Homo sapiens: one gene and its partners. The protein of the gene in region 7 purifies or fractionates together with the protein of the main gene of each other region. This does not show direct contact. Each region holds a gene or a part of one and is shown on either strand. Other genes may lie near its edges.

Evidence for each region.
Region 1: the proteins of TWNK (region 7) and LYSMD2 purify together in Homo sapiens (affinity purification with mass spectrometry; one large-scale study listed by BioGRID and IntAct). This does not show direct contact.
Region 2: the proteins of TWNK (region 7) and CLTA purify together in Homo sapiens (affinity purification with mass spectrometry; one large-scale study listed by BioGRID and IntAct). This does not show direct contact.
Region 3: the proteins of TWNK (region 7) and PHLDB2 purify together in Homo sapiens (affinity purification with mass spectrometry; one large-scale study listed by BioGRID and IntAct). This does not show direct contact.
Region 4: the proteins of TWNK (region 7) and RANBP10 purify together in Homo sapiens (co-immunoprecipitation; one large-scale study listed by IntAct). This does not show direct contact.
Region 5: the proteins of TWNK (region 7) and GID4 purify together in Homo sapiens (co-immunoprecipitation; one large-scale study listed by IntAct). This does not show direct contact.
Region 6: the proteins of TWNK (region 7) and ACTL8 purify together in Homo sapiens (affinity purification with mass spectrometry; one large-scale study listed by BioGRID and IntAct). This does not show direct contact.

The regions. Positions count from the first base shown.
Region 1 is NC_000015.10:51,722,511-51,725,083, reverse strand, and holds the end of LYSMD2 (lysM and putative peptidoglycan-binding domain-containing protein 2), read left to right. Parts: coding exon 1-294; intron 295-1,434; coding exon 1,435-1,477; 3' UTR 1,478-2,073; downstream 2,074-2,573.
Region 2 is NC_000009.12:36,207,921-36,210,239, reverse strand, and holds part of CLTA (clathrin light chain A), read right to left. Parts: exon of another isoform or gene 1,686-2,319; intron 974-1,685; coding exon of another isoform or gene 920-973; intron 1-919. UniProt on the Homo sapiens protein: Clathrin is the major protein of the polyhedral coat of coated pits and vesicles.
Region 3 is NC_000003.12:111,970,765-111,974,264, reverse strand, and holds part of PHLDB2 (pleckstrin homology-like domain family B member 2), read right to left. Parts: intron 534-3,500; coding exon 448-533; intron 1-447. UniProt on the Homo sapiens protein: Seems to be involved in the assembly of the postsynaptic apparatus. May play a role in acetyl-choline receptor (AChR) aggregation in the postsynaptic membrane.
Region 4 is NC_000016.10:67,800,061-67,803,560, forward strand, and holds part of RANBP10 (ran-binding protein 10), read right to left. Parts: intron 1-3,500. UniProt on the Homo sapiens protein: May act as an adapter protein to couple membrane receptors to intracellular signaling pathways.
Region 5 is NC_000017.11:18,059,908-18,063,407, reverse strand, and holds part of GID4 (glucose-induced degradation protein 4 homolog), read right to left. Parts: intron 1,564-3,500; coding exon 1,433-1,563; intron 1-1,432.
Region 6 is NC_000001.11:17,758,333-17,761,832, reverse strand, and holds part of ACTL8 (actin-like protein 8), read right to left. Parts: intron 2,505-3,500; exon of another isoform or gene 2,347-2,504; intron 1-2,346.
Region 7 is NC_000010.11:100,992,723-100,994,903, reverse strand, and holds the end of TWNK (twinkle mtDNA helicase), read right to left. Parts: intron 1,715-2,181; coding exon 1,394-1,714; 3' UTR 501-1,393; downstream 1-500.

The DNA of each region.
Region 1 (2,573 bases), on a different chromosome or scaffold from region 7:
TGATTGTATATTTCTGAAGAAAACTTTGAACATCCCAGTTATATCAGAGAAGCCTTTGTTGTTTAATGGACTTAACTCCATTGATTCTCCAGAAAATGAAACTGCTGATAACAGTTTTTCTCAGGAAGAGGAGCCAGTGGTGGCCGGGGAAGACCTCCCTCCTCCCAGTCCTCAAGAATCTGATGTTCAGCCTGTGCAGCCTGAGGAAGTGTCAGCCAGAGATTTCCTGCAGAGACTTGACTTGCAGATTAAGTTATCAACACAGGCAGCCAAGAAGCTAAAAGAAGAGAGCAGGTAAGAATACCCTGGTACAAATGTCAAAGTCTAAATAAATCACTATTAAGATGTCCTTGCTGGGCCAAATCTTTCTTTTCTCTTTTCTTTGCCTTTTCTTTTCTTTTCTTTCTTTCTGATTTTTTTTCTTTTTTTCTTAATTTCTTTCTTTCTTAATTTCTTCCTTTCTTAATTTCTTTCTTTCTTTCTTTTTTTGCTTTAAAAACTGCATTTTAGTTCTAGAAAGGCATTTTTAGTATATAAACTCTAAACAGAGCTGCTGCCTGATGCACAAGGCTTTATCTGTTGCAGTGTTTTTATCTGTTATTTACTATAAAAAGTTTGCTTCTTTGCTTTAATAGCGTCACTGTCCAGCTAGCACTTCTGGATAGCGGCAAAATAAAAGTGTCTCTCTCACTGACACTTTCAAGAGAAGTAGTGTCATAGAAAATACTTGTAAAATATTGATAGTTGCAAAACTTGTCAAAGACATTGTCTGTTATTTGTTACTGGGTGTTTCCTACATAAGATCTCATGTGAACTTTTTTCTTTGTTTTTTAAATTTGATATTAGGGCAAATCTTTCTCTCTCCTATAGAATTGGTTTCCTTTTTTCTTTATGATTTGATTTCAAAAAAGTACAATCTACTGTGTTTCCTTTTTTGCTCTGGCTATTGGGAAGCTTGCAACTAAAATTGATACCTGTGTTCAACTCCTATAATATTTCTTATGATTAATACATTGGTTTCCTTCTCCTTTCCTTAGTCCTGATTTTTTTATTTCTATTTTATTAATCTTATTGTATATATGCCTTTTGTTGTTAGTACCTTAAATCCTTTTGGGAAAGAGGTAGAATATAGAAAACATAAACAAATATAAATATGAATATAATTTAGTATAGATTTAAAATATATGTAAATATAAGCAAATATAAATACATAAATGAATGACATTATTTATTCTAATAACTGAGATATGAATAAAATGGAGATAGTAAGGTATGTCTTAAGTATTGGCATTTCATACAGTTGTCTAGGCATGCACAATATTCTAAGTTGATATATTCCTTCTTTGGCAAGTGGATATTGTATAATAAGTTGATGTTTTAGTTTTCTGCATACAGTTCTAAACTCTGATTTATGCTGTATTTATTTTCTTTCAGAGATGAAGAAAGTCCCTATGCAACTTCCCTCTATCACAGTTAGGTGATTTGGGGGCATAACTCTAACCAAAATTAAGATATGTTTGGACCATAAAGAATCCAACAACTGAAGATTCAAAAACATCCCTTCTGGATTCCTATAGTGTCCATCTTAAAATCATAACTAGGTAGTTCTACCTGCTGCAGTTGCACTGAAGTGATTAGTTCCCTCTGGCTTTCTATAATTTTAAGTCTTTATTATGGCATGATGGCAAGGTTGTAGCCTAAAGCTCATCACTTTTGTAGGTGGTGTTAGTTTTTAGACTAGCTTTTATAAATACTAATTGACATAAAGCATCAAAGATTATTTATATATTTAGGCTAAAAATAATGTTTATCTCCTTATGCAATCCTGATTATGTGAAAATATGGTTGCTGTTTAAGTGATGCTGAATTTGCTGTGTGTTTATAACTTAAGTGCTATATATATATTTCGATATGTCTTACATATTCTCTATTAATATAAAGAACCAAATTTTGTCTGCTATTTTGTAAAAATAAACTACAAAAGCCTGAATGAGAAAATAAACTATGTTTTCAAACTTGAGTCTCCTTTTTTTTTTTAACAAATGAGAAAATAAAATTGACTTTTAAATTATACATTTAAATGCTGACAGCTTCTTCTTCACTTTAATGGTTTTTATTATTATAAATGCAATTTTGAAAAAAGTATTCATAATCTAAAAGCAAAACAAGTATAATTACTAGTAATCTTGGCATTTTCATTGACCTAATGTGATTCAGATATGGTGAAAACATGGAATAAATCAAAAGAACAAATAAATAATACCATAATCTGACATTATATTGCAGAATTCTAGTATAGATTTCATTGCTAAGTTACTTTATAAGTGTTTGGTAGTCCTGTACTTATTTGAATTGATTTTTATTCCCATAATTTAATTGGTCTTTATTATATGTATAGATTACAGTAGGACACTTTAAGCAATATATCATTTATAATTAAATATTGTTTTGGTCTCAATTTCTGTTCAACTCTTAGATTAAATAAATCTTTAGGCTTCCACAAAAATTCCTCATATCTACCCCATCCCAGCATAGCAAAAATACTTTCACTTTCTTCTTTTTGTTATTTTTTT
Region 2 (2,319 bases), on a different chromosome or scaffold from region 7:
CTCTCCTCTTCCATTCCACCCTTACTTCTCATGTAAAGCCAGCCCTAATTTTTAAGGAGGAGACAATGAGAACTGTTTCCAACTCTTCAGCAATACTGCTTTGATAAAAGAAATCCTTAAAAAAAAGAAAAAAGAAAAAAAGAAAAAAAAAAGAATAAGAAAAACACCTTCTCCAGAGAAGATGCAGGTTTCTTTTGGGGGGGTCAGGGGGAGAAGCCCAAGTGGCCCGTATCAAGACACTTTGACTATCCTGATCTCAAAGCTGGGGGCTTCCCTGTGCTAGGAGACAGGACATCAGAAGCTGACCACTAAATAGCAATTTCTGACATGCAAGACCACAGAGGAACAATTATAGACACCCACTGGAGACAACCCCCTCTGCTCTGGACTCTTCTGCCTGAGGGAGAGGCAAACGACCCCACATTGTTTGAATGAACCAAGTATGGAAAATGCTGCCCCACAGCTCTGATTTTGGCAATGCAAGGTGCTGCTGCTCACTGGCTCCTAACCTCCTGGGACTGCCACCTGCTCCCAGGTGGGGAAACCTCCTTCCCACCTGAGGCAGGCAGGCAACAGGGCATGGCAGCAGTGATGGCAGCCAAGAGCAAGAGAGCAGAGTTCCCCCGAGCCTCAAACCGTTCCCAGATAAGATCGCAAATGACACATTTTGAAAGCGAGTTAGCTTTCTTCCCTCCAAAACCCCAAATATGAAAAATGGCCATCAGAGGATGCAGGGAGTCACAAATCTGGAAGATTCATCAACAGATCATACCCCGCTTATCAATTCTTAGGCAGCCCCCAAAGTGCCAATTTGAAATAATTTAAAAAGCAAAGCAACTTGTGACATAAAAGGAGCATTAACTCTAAACAAAAGTAGAAAGAATCAGATGTAGAAAAAGGAATTAGTTTTGCAACATACACATAACCAATCACGTCAGCGAAGGGTTGTTTGTAGAAAGCTTCATCTGCCACCCTAGACAGCAAGAGGTCCAAAAGGCAGGCAAGCAGGCAGGAAAAAAGAGAGAACATTGAGAAGCAGAAACATCTAAAATCCACAATTGAGGTACAACTGTGCTCTGAGGAGCTGCTCCCAAGGCTCCTTCCTAACCCCCGTGAGGCTTCCAGCGCTGGAGACTTCAGCAGGCCTGGTTTCCCGCTGGCCTTCCCACGTGGGGACTGCTCCACGACAGAGCAAGCACTGCCAACTTCATCCCTTTGGCTCACCCCAGCAACACGGGCATTTATTAAGCACCCAATCATGGACTAAGCCCTTTCACATACATTATGTTGATTCAATCCTTAACTGTTAACAACCTATGACCCTGACTGTTCTCACCCCCACTGTACAGATGAGGTAACTGAGGCTTAGAGATGAACAACTTGCTCAGCTACACCACAGTGGCAGCATTCAGGACTCACAACCAAGGCAGCCTGGCCCTAAGTCCAGGGCTCTTTCTACTGTATAGTCATGCTTCTTCCCTGCTGTATGTGCCCAGAAAGCCACGCCACCTTCCTGTTTCAGTTAATGCACTGGGCAGGAATGCTGCCAGACACCAGATGCGCTAGGACCCAAAGCCAGTTTTATCTTGGATTATCTAACTACTGCTTCCCCACACTGTCTGGGTGGGATACACTTCCAGAATCCTGGGAACACATATCGTCATTTTAAAATCTCAACCTTACAGGAAAAAACGGCTGGAGGTGAGTGGTCTGGTGGGAAGAACACTGGACTAGGATCCTGGCCCTGGCTTCTGTTGTTCCTGAATATGGCTCTCTCTCTACTCAAGAAGCGGGTACAGTTTCTGAATATTTTTACACCAGACTCAATTGGCTTTGATAAGGTGCAGCCCAGAATCCAGAACTTCATCCCTTCTTAACTCTCAACATGGCAGGGCTCTCAGACAGGAAGGAGGGGGCAGACTGGGTGGATAAATTTTGACAGCAGGGGCCAGGCTGGCTTTGACTCTGTTGTCCTGGACTGACTCCCTGGGCTCTGCCAGCCCACTCTTCTCCACTGTGGCTGGACATGGAACCTCCCTCATGGAGTCTTACCCTGTCCTTTGTCAAGTCGATTTGGGGTGGGCAAGGGGAAAGACATTTTTCAAGGATAATCATGCCTGGTCATTAAGCTAACCTCACATACTTATTTGAAGGCAAATTCTAGTAATTTTAAGTTAATTTTTAAGCTCACACATGCCCTTCCTTCTTTCCCATTTTGTTTTATACACAGGAGGTGTTTTGTGGAAATTTAAAGAAAGCAAAAAGAGCAGGCTGATTATAACTTAAAGTGACTCAGCAGGAAAACAGAGTTGTTTGTGG
Region 3 (3,500 bases), on a different chromosome or scaffold from region 7:
TTTTTCAGGATTGACCATTTTTCTGAACAGGAAATCTCAGACAGAACTCATAAATTATTTCAGCAGCTAGTTTGTAAAGCTCTAGCAGGGTACCTAGCTGAGAGTAGGAGTTTAATAAATAGTAGCTGTTATTCTTAGCCCTACTAGGACTTGCTCACGATCCCCCTCTTAACTATATGGTAGCTTCTTTTTAGAACCCTGGCAGAGTCGTTTCGCAGGGTTTCCCAAACCATTATGTCCAGAATATTTCCTCAATTTGCTATGATATTTTTTTTCCTCAAAGAGAACGGCCATCCCACTTACTTCATGTTTACTTTTCCAGCACCATTCTGATCATATCTATCTGTTACATCAGAACATCAATTTCAAACTTCTTAGACTCCAAAAATATTTTTCCCTTCTTAATTATGCATTCAAATTGTAGGAATTTAGAAAACTGATGTTTACCTTATTAGCATTCTTGAGGTGATCATAATAGACTTCTTCAATGGCTTGAAAGTATATTACTCCTTTCAATTTAGTTTCATGCTTGTCTGCAAAGACAGATAAGTGTTAAATACTTTATCGCCACTGAGGAACAGAAAAAATAATAATTTTATTACAATTATAATCATTAAAATATTTACAAAGTATTTAATTTATCTAAGATTAATTCAGAGAACTTGGGCTAGTGCATGAGGCCCCTTCTATCTATACTGGAAAAATAAAAAAAGAAAAGCCATAAAATTACTAGCTGCAAACCGAAGAACGAGATGACTTTGCCTAAGGCTCTCCAGCAGATTAGCAGTCAAAAGATAACCCAACATACTGACTTTCAGGTTAGCATGGAAAGTGTAAACTCTAACAGCACCAATACAAATGATTTCTCCACATTTTCCAAGACCGTCTTTGTAATGAAAATATTAATATGTAGATCTGTTGTAATAAAATTTTTACAAAGTGTTTTTTGACTTGTTATTTAAAATAATTTTCTACCCATATTTATTTCCTATCAAATTTCTTATTCAGGGTGCGTGATTTTTCCCCCGTTTTCAACAGAGCTACAAGCAAATAATTTATTGTCCTTTCAATGCAACAATTTCCAAACTGTTTTCAAAGATTTCATCACATTTACCATAAAAACAAAGCAAAACAAAAACAACCAAAACATGACTCAAACATATAGCACCACTCTGTGATCTACTAAGTTCTTGAAATATTTTGTAACTTAAACTCTGCAAGGATCACAGTGCGTGTCAGCATATTAAAGAATTTTAAAAGCATGAATGAGGAGGCAGGGAAAGAGACTCTATCATACCCTAGTAGTGGAAGTGCAAATAAGACAGCCTCTTTTGGAAGACAGTAGGTAAAACAAACACAATTAAAAACACAAAAATCCTCTTACTAAGCAATTCCACTTACTGTATAAGATCTCGTGTGTGTGCAAATAAATGTACATGGATTTGTGTTTGTTGTGGCACAAGGTTGCAAAAGATCTGCTTGAGCTTTAATAGGAGACTGATTCAATTATAGACCAGTCATACAATGAAATCTACAAAGTTACTGAAATGATGGAGGTAGATCTGTATCTGCTCCTAAGGAAAAAACCCTTGAAATACTATTATATGAAATAGGGTACGAATAGAATGAATAATTTAGTCCCAAATGTATAAGAGGAAAAAAGAAAATATATACATACTGAAACATATATAGAAGTGAATAGAGAAAATATGAAATATTTAAGGCTTAAAAACGAGAGATCAGAACTTTTGTAATGATAAAGAGACTTACTTTCATCATACAAATTTTTGTTATATTTTGAATTTTTTACTAGGTGAATGTCCCTTTTTAACTACAAAAAGCTAGTCTAAAAAATAATGGCCCTGAAAAGTTCAGCAGAGAGTAAAACTATTTAATTGCATTTAATCCAGAATATCCTAACCTATTTGCCCATTGACGATATTTTTTTCTTTGTTTTTCCTCTTCCTTGTGAAACACTGTTTTAACTGATACCATGTTCAGTTAAGTTTCAGTCAGTTTCTGCGAAAGACAAGGTCAATGTATCTCTCAAACATTTGCTGGAAATGATATTGCAGTAATTCATGAGAATACAATAATACTTTGTTTTCTGAAAGCAAATGTAAAATAAAATCTGGAGATAAAAGCAAATCTTGCCAGTGTTTCAAGCAAGCAGAAGGAAACTTTGGTTTGCAGGGCACTTCATATATGAGAAAGAACTCTGAAAAATATAAGCCTCACAGCCACATTATGAGCGAAGAGAAGCAATGATGCTATTGTAAATTGATGAGATAACGCTGCACATTCTGTCTCTCTCAGTATTATGCCATCAATTTGCAGACATATTTTCTAGGCCTCGGTTTTCTTTAGAGACTCTCCTAAAGATCCCAGTTAATATGCAGGAGGCCAAGGACAAAGGCCAGGGCCATGAATAACACAGAGTCCTGGGACTTTGCCACTCAGTGTTCACATTTGCAGCTCCTTCACAAGTACACGGCCATTTCCCTCACTGACAGACAGAAGGGACATGACTCCTGTAGGGTTAAGTACAGCGTAAATTGCGATCTGGATGACTGCCTGCGGACTGGTCTATTCCTGTGCTTGTTGTGTATGAGAAGCAGGGGTGGGGGTAGGAGTGGACAAAGCTGATAGGTGATGGCCGTAAACAGAACCGAACGAGCAGCGTTTGTCCAACTAGGTCTCACCAGCCAGTTATATCATAAATACATATTAAAAAGCAAATGAAATGTAATTTTTGTCTGTTTTTTTAAATTAGGGTTCTGGGTAATTTTTCATATACCAAGAAGGTTTTGGTATTTTTTTAAAATTGAAATCAGTCACCAGAAGTTTTGGTTTGCAAAGACACATTTACATGGGTCTGAAGCTTGGAGCTTAGGTTTGAAGCAGTTGGCCAGGTCATGAAACCACTCACCTGGCCGATAGATGAGAGAATGAAATAAGGCTCACAGAGAACAGGAGCACAGAAGAAGAGTGAAGCAGTTTTGTGTGAAGTTCTTTAAAGTTGTATTTTTGGAAAATTCTGGGTGAGGTTTTCTGAAGACAATACCACATCATACAGTTTTGTTTATGCAGTGTGCAGACATCAAATTGTATTAACTGAAGAAAGCTGCTCTGGATGTTTATAAAACTCAATGACAAAAAGCCTTAGAGAGGCAAAGCAGGGGACCTAGGACCGGCAGGCCATCGGCTTCAGGCCACTAATTTCTCCAGTAACTGGAACCTCACCCAAAGAGCTCCTCGGTGAAAGGCAGGCATTCCCCTACCAGCTCCTCACCCATTTTCTGGGGCTCCTGAGCCACTCTTTCCTTTCTTCCACAGGCTGCTTGGTTTCTCACACTTCTCCTTATAAACATAACCTGACCTCACTGGATTGATTAAATGACTAGACTGTTATTTATATTTTATTGCATCGATACATTTTACTATTCCTGGTGATGCTCATAAATACTGACAGTCACCCCAAAACAGGGTTTTTTTCATAA
Region 4 (3,500 bases), on a different chromosome or scaffold from region 7:
GCAGTGAGCCAAGATTGTGCCACTGCACTCCAGCCTGGCAACAGAGCGAGACTCTGTTTCAAAAACAACAACAACAACAACAACCAAAAAAAAAAAACAATGGGTACTGCGCCCTGGTGTCTGGAATGAATGAATGAGTGCACTGCTGCCTGGCCAAAGGAAGTCAGCTGCAGGAGCAAGGGAAGGCTGGCTGTGGTCAGAGACCCCTGCTCTGGGCCTGGGCCCAGACACTGGCTACAGAGGAAAATGCCCCCACCCCTCTCCATGCCTTCCAGTGCTCTAGCCCAGGCCTACTACTCTTGGGTAAAGCAACCATCACATGTCAGGAGGCCTCCGCCGCTGGGATGATGTTACAGTCTATTTTGAGGGTCACACTGGAGCATCTGTCAGCCTAGCCAGCCACACCCTCCATGTGTCATCACTAAGAGCCAGGGACACCCACAGGTCCATGAACTCTGCCTGCAGACATTGCTCCTCCCCAGGGACCCTCAGCTTCAGGCCCTCCTTCGCTTCCTAGAAAGACAGACCTGGATGCCCCTTATCTCCTGGCACCACTGGCAGTGCTCTGATGTCTCCTCACCCCACCAGACCCGCTCCCCGAGTTCACAGCTCTGGTGACTCGGCAAAATGCAGTTGAAGCCCATCAGTCTGTGCCAAGCTCTTAGCTCAAACACAGCCCCTCCTACTCCACAGAGCTCTCTTATACTTGAGGAGTGCCCAGAAAGCCTAGCACCCAGAAGTCAAGCTAGTTACCCATCAGACTCATAGGTCTAACAGGTCTCGCCTACTGGGGAACTCCTACTCATTCCTCCCAACTGTTCCCAGGCTCTGCCTCCTCTTGCAGAAAGACTTTCAGTCCACTCTCTACTGAATGGGCCACAGGCTTCCTGAGGACAAAGCTGATCTGTGCTGGCTTTACATCTGTTCTCCCTATACCTAGTATAGGGCCTGGAACATAGTAGGTATATATAAATATTCTGTGAAATCTTGACATGAAACTTTCCTTATTAGACTAGCTTAGTGTGTTCTTCTCCAAAAGATATTGTCAAAACAAAGGACGTTCTGGAGAACAATGACACTAACAACTGGGTTTATAAATACCTTTTACAAAGGAGGTGTACTCAAATCTACAGAAAAGCAAGTTTACAGATTAAATGGAACAGTAAGTTGATCAAGCCCGGCCCAGAGCATGCCACAATTCTCTGGCCCTACACAGCACCATGCACCTTTCAGCTCTGTCCCCTAACATTGCAATCTGGTAGGAATCCAACAGAACATTCCTTCACTCTACCCAGGGAAGAAATGCAACAGCTACAATGGGGAAAGGCAGCAGCAGCATGGACATGTGTGTCTAGGATCAGGCGAGGACATCTGATAAGTCAGGCTACTCCACTGCACACCCTAAGCCCTGCAGCCAGGGTAGGCCACCAAACATCCCAGGGACTCAGGGCTCACTCACAAAATGGGAAGGTAGATGATCACCTGCTCTAGCCACTTGCCAGAGATGCTGTGAGGATCAAACTAGGTAACACAGGAAAGCTAGACAACCAGTTAATGCTTGGGTCATGGACTAAACCAGGATAAAAAACACACCTCCAAAATCCATGGGAGGCTGACAATGGTGGCTCCTGCCTGCAATCCCAGCACTTTGGATCACTTTGAGGCAGGAGGATCACTTGAGGCTAGGAGTTGGAGACCAGCCTAGACAACACAGCAAGATCCCATCTCTATAAAATAGTTAAAAAAAAAATCAGCTGGGCATGGTGGCTCATGACTATAATCCCAGCACTTTGGAAGGCTGAGGTGGAAGAAATACTTGAGCCCAGGAATTCAAGACCAGCCTAGGAAACATTGTGAGACCCCATCTCTACAAAAAATAAGAAAATGAGCCAAGCATGATGGCACACACCTATAGTCCCAGCTACTCAGGAAGCTGAGGTGGGAGGATTGACTGAGCCCAGGAAGTTGAGGTGGCGGTGAGCTGTGATCATGCCATTGCACTCCAGCCTGAGCAACAGAGCGAGACCCTGCCTCAAAAAAAAAAAAAAAAATCTACAAAAAAAGGGAAATGAGCCAGTTGATGTCTGCCTGCCCTGTGTAACTGCCTTTGGCCTCCTCAAAACCCACCTGGCCCATACTAACATGTGGCTGCATCCCAGCCATGGGAAGGCTTTCAGGGATTCCATAAAGAGACCATGAGGAGCTATTCATACTCTTGCCATCTGACAGTGGTCAACTGAAGCAGGATACCACAGGTATACATGACCTGAGACCTTTCTAAAACTGATGTTTCCTTGCTGGGCACCATGGCTCATGCCTGTAATCTTAGCACTTTGGGAGACTGACGCAGGTGAATCACCTGAGGTCAGGAGTTCGAAACCAGCCTGGCCAACATGGCGAAACCCCATCTCTACTAAAAATACAAAAATTAGCCAGGCGTGGTGGCGTATGCCTGTAATCCCAGCTACTCGGGAGGCTGAGGCAGGAGAATCACTTGAACCCAGAAAGTAGAGGTTGCAATGAGCCGAGATTGAGTCAATGCACTCCAGCCTGGATGATAAAGGAGACTGTGTGGCAAATAAATAAATTAATTAATTAACATCTGATGTTTCCAGATCAGCTCAACAGCCATGTTTACCACATGTAAAATGCTGGGAATAGATGCCCACCTTTCTTTAGACTTCCAGTCAACACCTATAGTTCACCAATCTAACATGACACAGCAAGATCGACTAAAACTGAAATGTTAAAACCAGTTGAAAGAATCCAGATCTCCAACATAGCCAGACCTCATCTCTCAAAAAATACAAAAAGAAAAAAAGAATCCAGGTCTCTAAGTGTAAACACTTCCCTTCTGAAGTTGGTCTCTGCTCTCTACCTAGATAACTAACTCAGCTGTTATCTATGATAAAGACTAGGAGAAAACAATCCATTTTCCTCCCTACAAATTTAAGAAGTGCACTTCAGTTTCTGTGGCAGTATGAGACTCCAGCACCACCATTTTAGTCAACATTATTTTCAAGGTGCTTGTTTTAAGGGGCTATTCTCATTCACACTAGTTCAAGCACACTAAATATATGTGCTTCTATCAGACGGTGGAAGGTGAAAATAGGAGCTTTGAAGCCCTCCCATAAATTTAACTTTCCTGTCTGTAAACGCACTAGATGGGGATAAAAATGAAAGATGGCCGGGTGCAGTAGCTCATGCCTGTAGTCCCAGCAGTTTGAGAGGCCAAGGTGGGAGGATCACTAGAGACCAGCCTGGGCAACATAGCAAGACCTCATCTCTACAAATAATTTAAAAAATTAGGCTGGGTGCGGTGGCCCACACCTGTAATCCCAGCACTTTGGGAGGCCAAGGCAGGCGAATCACCTGAGGTCAGGAGTTTGAGACCAGCCTGACCAACATGGAGAAACCCCATCTCTACTAAAAATACAAAATTAGCCTGGTGTGGTGGCACATGCCTGTAAGCCCAGCTACTCAGGAGGCTGAGGCAGGAG
Region 5 (3,500 bases), on a different chromosome or scaffold from region 7:
GATGCAGTCTCACTCTGTCGCCCAGGCTGGAGTGCAGTGGTGCAATCTCGGCCCACCGCAACCTCCGCCTCCGAGGTTCAAGTGATTCTCCTGCCTCAGCCTCCTGAGTAGCTGGAACTACAGGTGCGTACCAGCACGCCTGGCTAATTTTTGTATTTTTAATAGAGACGGGGTTTCACCATATTGGCCAGGCTGGTGTCGAACTCCTGACCTCGTGATCTGCCCACCTCGGCCTCCCAAAGTGCTGGGATTACAGGCGTGAGCTACTGTGCCCGGACCAAAGCTGTTATTTATTTATTTATTTATTTATTTATTTATTTATTTATTTATTTTTGAGATGGTGTCTCGCTCTGTCGCCCAGGCTGGAGTGCAATGGCCCGATCTCAGCTCCCTGCAAGCTCCACCTCCCAGGTTCACGCCATTCTCCTGCCTCAGACTCCCGAGTAGCTGGGACTACAGGTGCCTGTCACCATGCCTGGCTAATTTTTTGTTTTTTAGTAGAGACGGGGTTTCACCGTGTTAGCCAGGATGGTCTCGATCTCCTGACCTCGTGATCCACCCGCCTCGGCCTCCCAAAGTGCTGGGATTACATGCGTGAGCCACTGTGCCCGGCCAGCTGTTATTTTTAAAAAGGATTATAAAAGTTTTACAAACTTGCGTGAAAACCATTACTGAAAGCCTAAAAATCGTGGCTACAGGGCTGGCATTTACTTGCAGATATAATTTCGTTACCACTGAACAAGGAATCTAGGGTAGGATCACTTCACATATAACAAAGTGTTAAATACTGGAAAGAAAGAATTTTTACCTTCAGAGAGGAAATCAGGCATTTTATCACATGGTTTGCCCTCCGGGGACAGCAAGGTGCTTAAAAAGCAGCAAGGAGGCAGGAGAATCCCTCAAAAGGTGGCAAAAGTTAGCATTCAGGCAGAGTTCAGTCCTTTACTATTGGTGACACACTGGACAGGACTGTCCACTCACAGGCCCCCAGGTCATGAGCCTTAAATCAAGTGCATGTCGGACCAACTCTAAGGAATGCAGCCACAAAATTTAAAAAGCTGCTGACAGCAAAATTCACATTGTCCAGTACTGGATCAATTCACATTTTAGTTACTAATTCAATTTGCAAGGATTAAATAAAAACCAGCAAGATTGAGATAAACATTGCCAAAAATACAGTATTGCTTAAAAGTGCTTAGAAATGAGTTCTTTCACCTATAATTCATTTTCATCTCATTTACTCTGCTCTGTGCATAGGGATAAGGCCTTATTGTGAGCAACTGAGATCACTGAAATAAGCTCTCAGCATCCAAATAAAGCACAGAATCTATACAGAGACAGGCTAAGATGTTGCTTTTGGGTTTGATGAGCCAAGGGAGAGCCAGCTGGGCAGCAAGCCCTCCCCGTGGCCTCTGTCCTCAGAGGTCCTCACCATTCTGAACTCCTATGGTAGTAGTAGCCCTCTATGGAGGCTGCTGACTTCTGAAAGCAGATGTAGTAGAACCCGGCAAAAGAAGCACCACTGATGTCTTTGATCGTGTGATCTGGGACCAGAAACTGTTCCTGCACACAGATGAAGAGGGTCAGTAACAGATAGCATTCTCTGACCACCCACGGGGCCTCCCTGTTAAGCATCAGGGGGTTCTAAGGACCACTCGAGAAAAATATAGGATCTCATAGTCTAACCTAGACTTGCTGGGTGATGGCGGGCCCGTGGGGTCTCAGCCTGACTTCTAAAAAGCGTCCATGTGCTCCTGGAGTATTCTATATACTAAAGTGACAAACTGTGTCTTGAGCTCACTAGGATCAGCAATTCAGAGAAGGTACCATGGCCGAAACATCTAATATATAAATCAATACCTACTCACCTGCCTGTCTGCCTGCCTCTCTATCTTTCAGAGACCACAGACAATCAACCTGGGAAGAGCGAAGTTTCTGCTCCAGTTCTCAGAACTGTCAACAGATGCTTGATAACATCTAGAACAGTGAGTCGCTTCTGTAGGTCTGTGGACCATTCTGAGTGCAAAGCAGTTGCCAGTAGCCCCTGTGACACCCCCTCCAAGAGCTTGACGCCTTGTCAAAAGCAGTCAGAACGGTACTGTTCTTTACCAGGGACCTTAGGAGAGAGGCAAGCTTGCCACCTCTGCTGGAGCTGAAAGCTGGAAACCCAGGTCCTGGCACCTACTTTCCCAGAGAGATGAGGTCAGAAGCTCCAGGGCCTCAGGTGGTCTACTAAAGGACCACAGATGAGCCACTCTGAGACATTCTTTGGAGGCAAAACAAGCCCATTGCTTTTTAAACAAATTTAAGACACCCTCCCATTCCTTATTCAACTTCTAAAATTGTGGCTTTTAAAATTAATTTTAAAATTCAGATCGGGTGTGGTGGCTTATGCCTGCAATCCCAACACTTTGGGAGGCTGAGGTGGGTGGATCACCTGAGGTCAGGAGTTTGAGACCAGCCTGGCCAATATGGCGAAAACCCGTCTCTACTAAAAATACAAAAAATTAGCAGGGCATGTTGGCGGGCACCTGTAATCCCAGCTACTTGGGAGGCTGAGGCAGGAGAATTGCTTGAACACGGGACGGGGAGGTTGCAGAGAACCGAGATCGCGCCATTGCACTCCAGCCTGGGCAACAGAGTGAGACTGTCTCAAAAAACAAACAAACAAACAAAAAAACCCAAAAATTAGCCAGGCGTGGTGGTACGCGCTTGTAGTCCCAGTTACTCAGGAGGCGGAGGCAGGAGACTTGCTTGAACCTGGGAGACGGAGGTTGCAGTGAGCCAAGACTGTGCCACTGCACTCCAGCCTGGGCAACAGAGTGAGATTCCGTCTCAAAACAAACAAAATTCAAACAATAAACTTCCTTTAACAGGTTGTTTAGTTGACATGTTTCCCGCTAGATGGCAAGCTCGTGAGCATACTGTTCCCTGTTTACTCTCTGCATCTGGCAACCTACTGGAAGAGTGGTGATCCCCACTTCTTTTTTTTTTTTTTTTTTTTTTTGGTGAGACAGAGTCTTGCTCTGTCACCCAGCCTGGAGTGCAGTAGCGCAATCTTGGCTCACTGCAACCTCCACCTCCTGGGTTCAAGTGATTCTCCTGCCTCAGCCTCCCGAGTAGCTGGGATTACAGGCGTGCACCACTACACCTGGCTAATTTTTGTATTTTTAGTAAAGACGGGGTTTCACCACATTGGCCAGGCTGGTCTCGAACTCCTGACCTCGTGATCTGGCTCTCTTGGCCTCCCAAAGTGCTGGGATTACAGGCATGAGCCACCGCGCCCAGTGATCCCCATTTCTTTTTTTTTTTTTTTTTTTTTTGAGATGGAGTCTTGCTCTGTCGCCAGGCTGGAGTGCAGTGGCGTGATCTCAGCTCACTGCAACTTCCATCTCCCAGGTTCAAGTGATTCCCCTGCCTTAGCCTCCTGAGTAGCTGCGACTACAGGGGCATGCCAACATGCCCGGCTAATTTTTTGTATTTTTTAGTAGAGATGGGTT
Region 6 (3,500 bases), on a different chromosome or scaffold from region 7:
TTGAGAGGCCGAGGAGGGCGGACCACCTGAGGTCGGGAGTTCGAGACAAGCCTGGCCAACATGGTGAAACCCCGTCTCTACTAAAAATACAAAAATTAGCTGGGCGTGGTGGTGGGTGCCTGTAATCCCAGCTACTTGGGAGGCTGAGGCAGGAGAATCACTTGAACCCAAGAGGCAGAGGTTACAGTGAGCTAAGATCACACCACTGCACTCCAGCCTAGGTGAAACAGCGAGACTCAGTCCCAAAAAAAAAACAGAACAAGTTTGGGCCCACATACCCAAAAGCCTGCCTTCCCCGTGTTCCTTCGGTAATTAATTGTCCCACTTTAAAGTCGAAGCTATGAAGACCCAGCAAGATTACCTGGGCGGATCACACAGAGTCTGTGCCAACAAGAGCCTGGCCCAGGGAGACCACTTCCTGCATCCTGTAAGCGGCCCAGCTCAGTCCCCGGAGGTAGGAGGGAAGCAGGTAAAGCAGAAACATGCATTTATTAAGTCACTGCTGCATGCCAGGCACTGCGCTAGGCCCTTTGGCATCTAAGATCTTTCTAAATGCCACAGTGGCCAAGCACAGTGGCTCACACCTGTAATCCCAGCACTTTGGGAGGCCGGGAGGGCTGCTTGAGCCCAGGAGTTTGAGACCAGCCTGGGCAACATAGCAAGACCTTGTCTCTACCAAAAAAAAAAAAAAAAAAAAATTAAGCCGCAATGACCCCTGTCCCCGAGTTTGCATAGGGTAGCTCCTCTTTCCTCCCTCTGCAGTGAAGCACCCACCCCCACCAGTCTGGCCACATTCTGGGCCCAGAGAGGGATAGGGACCTGGCTCCCTCCAATAAGGACTTGTGCTACCTTATTTAAACGTCACTGCCGCACATAATTAGAGGCACTTACCCCCTCGGATCCATCTTTCTCCTCAGATCGGTTTTATAGCCAGTAATAACTCTCGTAAATTCTTCAACAGATGGAAATTTTATTTGACTAATCATGGCCGCTTGACTTGCTGGGGCACAGCAGCTCGGGGCTTGGACAGGCAAGATGCCAGCTGAGGTGATTGTCAGGGGGCTGGGCAAAGTGCCCAGAACCCAAGGCCACCTTGTCCACCCACTCCTCTGAGGGATGCCACAAGAAGGCATCAGAAAGTGCCCAGCACTGCACAGCAACGGGCAGCTGTGCCCCACCTTCTAGGTCCAGAGTTGTCTCTAAGCAGGGCACCAAGACCCTTTGCCACCCCCCTGGGCTCTTGGACTGTGAACACATAATGGCTAGCACCAGGGGGAAGCTAGGACATCCTGCCTGAAACACCTAAAAATGGCAGTCCTGTTGGCTGCAACCACTGTGCATCTGCTCCATGCCAGCCCCATGCCAAGTGCCCCTCATGCTTCATCCCACTCAGTCCTGCCAACGATCCTATGCACGCCTGTGAAAAACCCATTTCACAGTTTAGGAAAAAGACAATGGAGCAAAGTCCCACACCAAGTCACCAGTTTGAGCTGCCACCCTCATCTGGGGAATTGAAGACTGGCATCTCCCCTCCCATTCACTCCTTCTAAGACCCACATCGAATCCATCAGTGTTACTTAAAATAGACCCACAAAACTTCCAGCAGCTCCTCAGCACCCTCTAGACAAATTGAAAGCCCTGTGGCCTGGCCTTCCCAAAGGAACCTCATTCGAGGTATTTATCCAAGAGATATGAAAACGCATAACACAAAAAAGCCCATCCACTCAAGAATACACATCACAGATTATTCATAATAGCCCCAAATTGGAAATGTCCACAGGAAAACTGTGGACAAACTGTGGCCAGTATGCACAATGGGCATCACTCTGCATCCTATTAGGAGGGGGAAGCTGCGCAGTCATTTGAATAGGTAAGTTTCATATAAAGGATTATTAACCATAATGGGAGGTGGAATTAACAAGAAACTGGCTAGAAAGTAAAGGGAACTCTGAAGAATATAGGTTTAGGAGACAAAAGGAGCAGCTGCTGCCCCCCAGGGCTGAAAGAGACCCTCAGAAGCAAAAGTCCCCCACCCCACCCAGTGCTGAGCTAGAGTATCAAGCAAACGCACCTTCTCTAGGGCTGACATCCAGCCCTCAAGGAAGAGGCTTCTACTCCAGCGTTATGGCAGAGCCCCTAAAGAACAGTTCTTCAACCTGAGCTGACAGAGTGCCCAAGGAGGAGCCTCCACCCAGAAACAAGCATCCTCCCACAAACACCCCTGAGGGCTGATATCCAGGCCTTGCTGAAGAGGGTATGGCTGTGCCTCACTACATTGGGGGAGAAAAAAAGTTGGTCTGGTGCACACCAGCAGAACTTGCAAGAAAGCCAACCTGTAGAACTTACCAGAAATCTGCCCCGCAGGGTGCCACAAAAGCTGCTCACAGGAGGTGTCTCACCAGAGGCACCCACTACAAAACTGCCTAAAATAAGGTGCTGCTGGCCTCTGCTGAGCACGGCAGCAGCCAGCACTGAGCGGCACGTGCTGCAGGAGCAGGCCCTGTGAGCACGTGGCAACCAGGAAGCAGAAGGTCCCTGCTGCAGAGGCTCCTCGGCGCCCTCTACTGGCAAAGCCCAGCTTGCTGCCTGGACAGGGAGAAAATTTAAAGGGCCCAGATCCATTTTCACCAGGCAGGCAAGAAGGGTGATTGGACACAGAAAAGCAATAATTGATAACCAGAAAAGCCCATCTCTTTGACTACTTAGCTTCCATATGAATCCTCCTGCACACCACTGAAGTCCTGTACAACAACACAACTGCGTATTTCTATCTAAAAAGATGCAGCTATCATCCTTGTAAGTTCTCACTCACTCCCCAAAACAAGGAGACTAATAGGCCCAGGAGTCGTCATGGACTATATTTATTAGGACTTAAATACCGATCACAGTTCCATGGAACATTCTGTCACCTAAAGACTATAAAGTCGACTTCCAAAAACTTGCATATAAAACAAAAATGGGAAGAAGAGAGAAGAAAATGGATAATTACCAAGTGTGCTTACTCTAATTGTTTATTCAGGAGCTCAGAAAATAACTTCGGGGTGGGCATGGACCAAGCAAATCTACTGAGAGTCAGACTACAGCTAAGACTCTATCCCTGACCATCACAAGCCCCACTTTGACTTATGAGCCAGAGTGGCATTTTAGATCCCCAGGAAACAGCATCAGTTCAGAGTTAGTGCCAAGTAACTCCAGAACTGTCTGGGTATGTCCATTTCCCTATTATTTTGGTAAATGGTCACAGGTCCCTTTGGAGGAAGGTTTGGAGGAAGATTTACAATAAGTATTTATGGCAATGATGCAGGCTCCTTCCTCAAGGGGACCCGGCCACCCAGGGATTCTGGGTCTGTGAATTGACTTAGGGTCTGGAAACTGAATGAGAAGCCATGACTATCAATTGCCAGGTTTTGGCTACCGGGCCTAGAACTTTCTATCACATATAAAAATACATGAAATAATACTCTAGTAGGCTGCCCACTTATTTCATTCCCAGAGACACT
Region 7 (2,181 bases):
TGAGAAATGTACGTGGTGGAGGATGGGGGGAGAATGGGGCCTAGTTTCTGCATTTTTCACAAGTCCCCAGGAGTTCTGGCACGCATTAGCATATGAGAAACACGGAGAGGGTACAGGAGGGAGATGGATGGGGGTGGACAGAATATGTTGAGTCTAAGTCCACTTGAGAGGTGAGTGGCTCACATCACAGAGGAATGGCCAGTCAGGCAGGGCACTGGGCTCATGTGGCCCAGTGATGAGTACCTGTGCCAGGAATCACTCGAGATCCTCAGGGAAGTTAGGTATGAGGACAGATCATCTTGTCTTCCCTAGGCCAAGAAGAGATGTAAATGGAAGGTGGGGTGTGAAGGCCCTTTAATGTCCCTGCTTCCTTGGAAGCCCACCGCTCAAAGGCTGCAAGCAGTGGGAGGGGACCCGTCCATTCCCAATCCCGAAAGGGAAATTCAGCTACGGACTGGGGAGACACCTGGTGGATGAATAAGAAAAAGCACAGAAACAAAGGCAATGGAAAAATTTTTTAGTAAAACTGGAAAAGGCTCTATAAAATGTCCTGACTCCAGCAGTCTTGAGGCAGCACACAATGGCATCAGTGTCTAGGTGGCAGGCACTCCGGGCTGACAGCTTCCTTCTATGGCTCTATGACCAAGCAACCCAGCCCGAGGCAGCTCCCACCAGTGAGGCCCTGATATTGCAGGGCTAAGCACCTAGGATCCAATTCTAGTACATGCCACCTCATGCTAGGCTCTACAAAGTGGGGAGCAGAGGAGCTTGGTACCCACTGTATCACCCTTTGACTTTGAAAGCCTAGGCTGGAGTTTCGCATGAAGTCCCCGATTCCCCTCCAGGTTCATGCGGCCTGACCTCACTGCCTTGAATCTGACCTGCTCATTCCTACCTCAGGGCTTGGATTTCCTTTTCTCTCTGCCTGGGTCCCCTTCGCCGGATGTTCACGTGGCTCTCTCCTTCTAGTTGTTTAGGCCCCAGCTCACATGCCCTCGGCTCAGAGACACCTTTTCAGACCACTTATCTACACTAGCCTGCCAGCACTCTATCGCATTTCTATTTTCTTTACAGCATTTTTCACTAAAACTAGGTTTTCTGCTAATTTGTTCATTGCTTGCTTGTCTCTTCCGCCAGAATGCATGCAGGCAGGGACTTTATCTCTCTTTTCAGTGCTGTATATACAGGACCTCAAACAAAGCCTGAGCAACACAGTAGTTTCTCAGTAGTCTGCTACATTGAATTTTCTCACTATGGAAACCTGCTCTAGGTTAGGCCCCTCAGACTGAGAAGGGCACACAGCTCAGGACCACAGGATAGAGGAGCCCTTGCAGAGTTTTATGCTCCAGCCTATCCTATCAGGCTCATTTCAGTGACCAGCTCTGCACGGCCTTCACTTTGAACGCTTGGAGGTGTCTGGCTGGTCGGGAGTGGGGGCCTGGCCTGAGCAAATCTCAGAGTTCTGTGTCGTAGCCCCCTTTTTGCCAGAAGAGGGCTTTTTGGCCACTGGTCCAGTGTCATCCTTGATCTTCTTGAGCCGGGCCTTGTTCTTTGGTGGAATGGAGAAGGTGAGGGAGTTCTTGTTGAACTCAAGCGGGAAGACACCTACATCTCCATCAAAGCGGTTCTTGGACACCTGCAGATACCGTTTCCCTGGCCCGGTTACCAGCTTCCTGTCCTGCAGGATCAGAACATTGTCTGCTTCCTGGCTTGCCTGGGGAACAGGGGGCAGAAGGAGGAAAGCAGGAGTAAGAGGACATGAGCAAAGCAGAAAGGGGGGCTGACAGGGCAGGGAGGAGTGATAAGAATGGGGAGAGGGGCTGGGTACAATGGCTCACGCCTGTAATCCCAGAACTTTGGGAGGCCGAGTCGAGTGGATCACGATGTCAGGAAATCAAGACCATCCTGGCTAACACGGTGAAACCCCATCTCTACTAAAAATACAAAAAATTAGCTGGGCATGGTGGCATGCACCTATAGTCCCAGCTTCTTGGGAGGCTGAGGCAGGAGAATCGCTTGAATCCGGGAGGCGGAGGTTGCAGTGAGCCAAGATTGTGCCACTGCACTCCAGCCTGGGCAACAGAGCGAGACTCCGTCTCAAAAAAGAAAAAAAAAAAGAGAAAGAATGGGAGAGGGAAAAGTACTTCCCCCCATGACCAAAGCTCTTTGAACTACTGACCA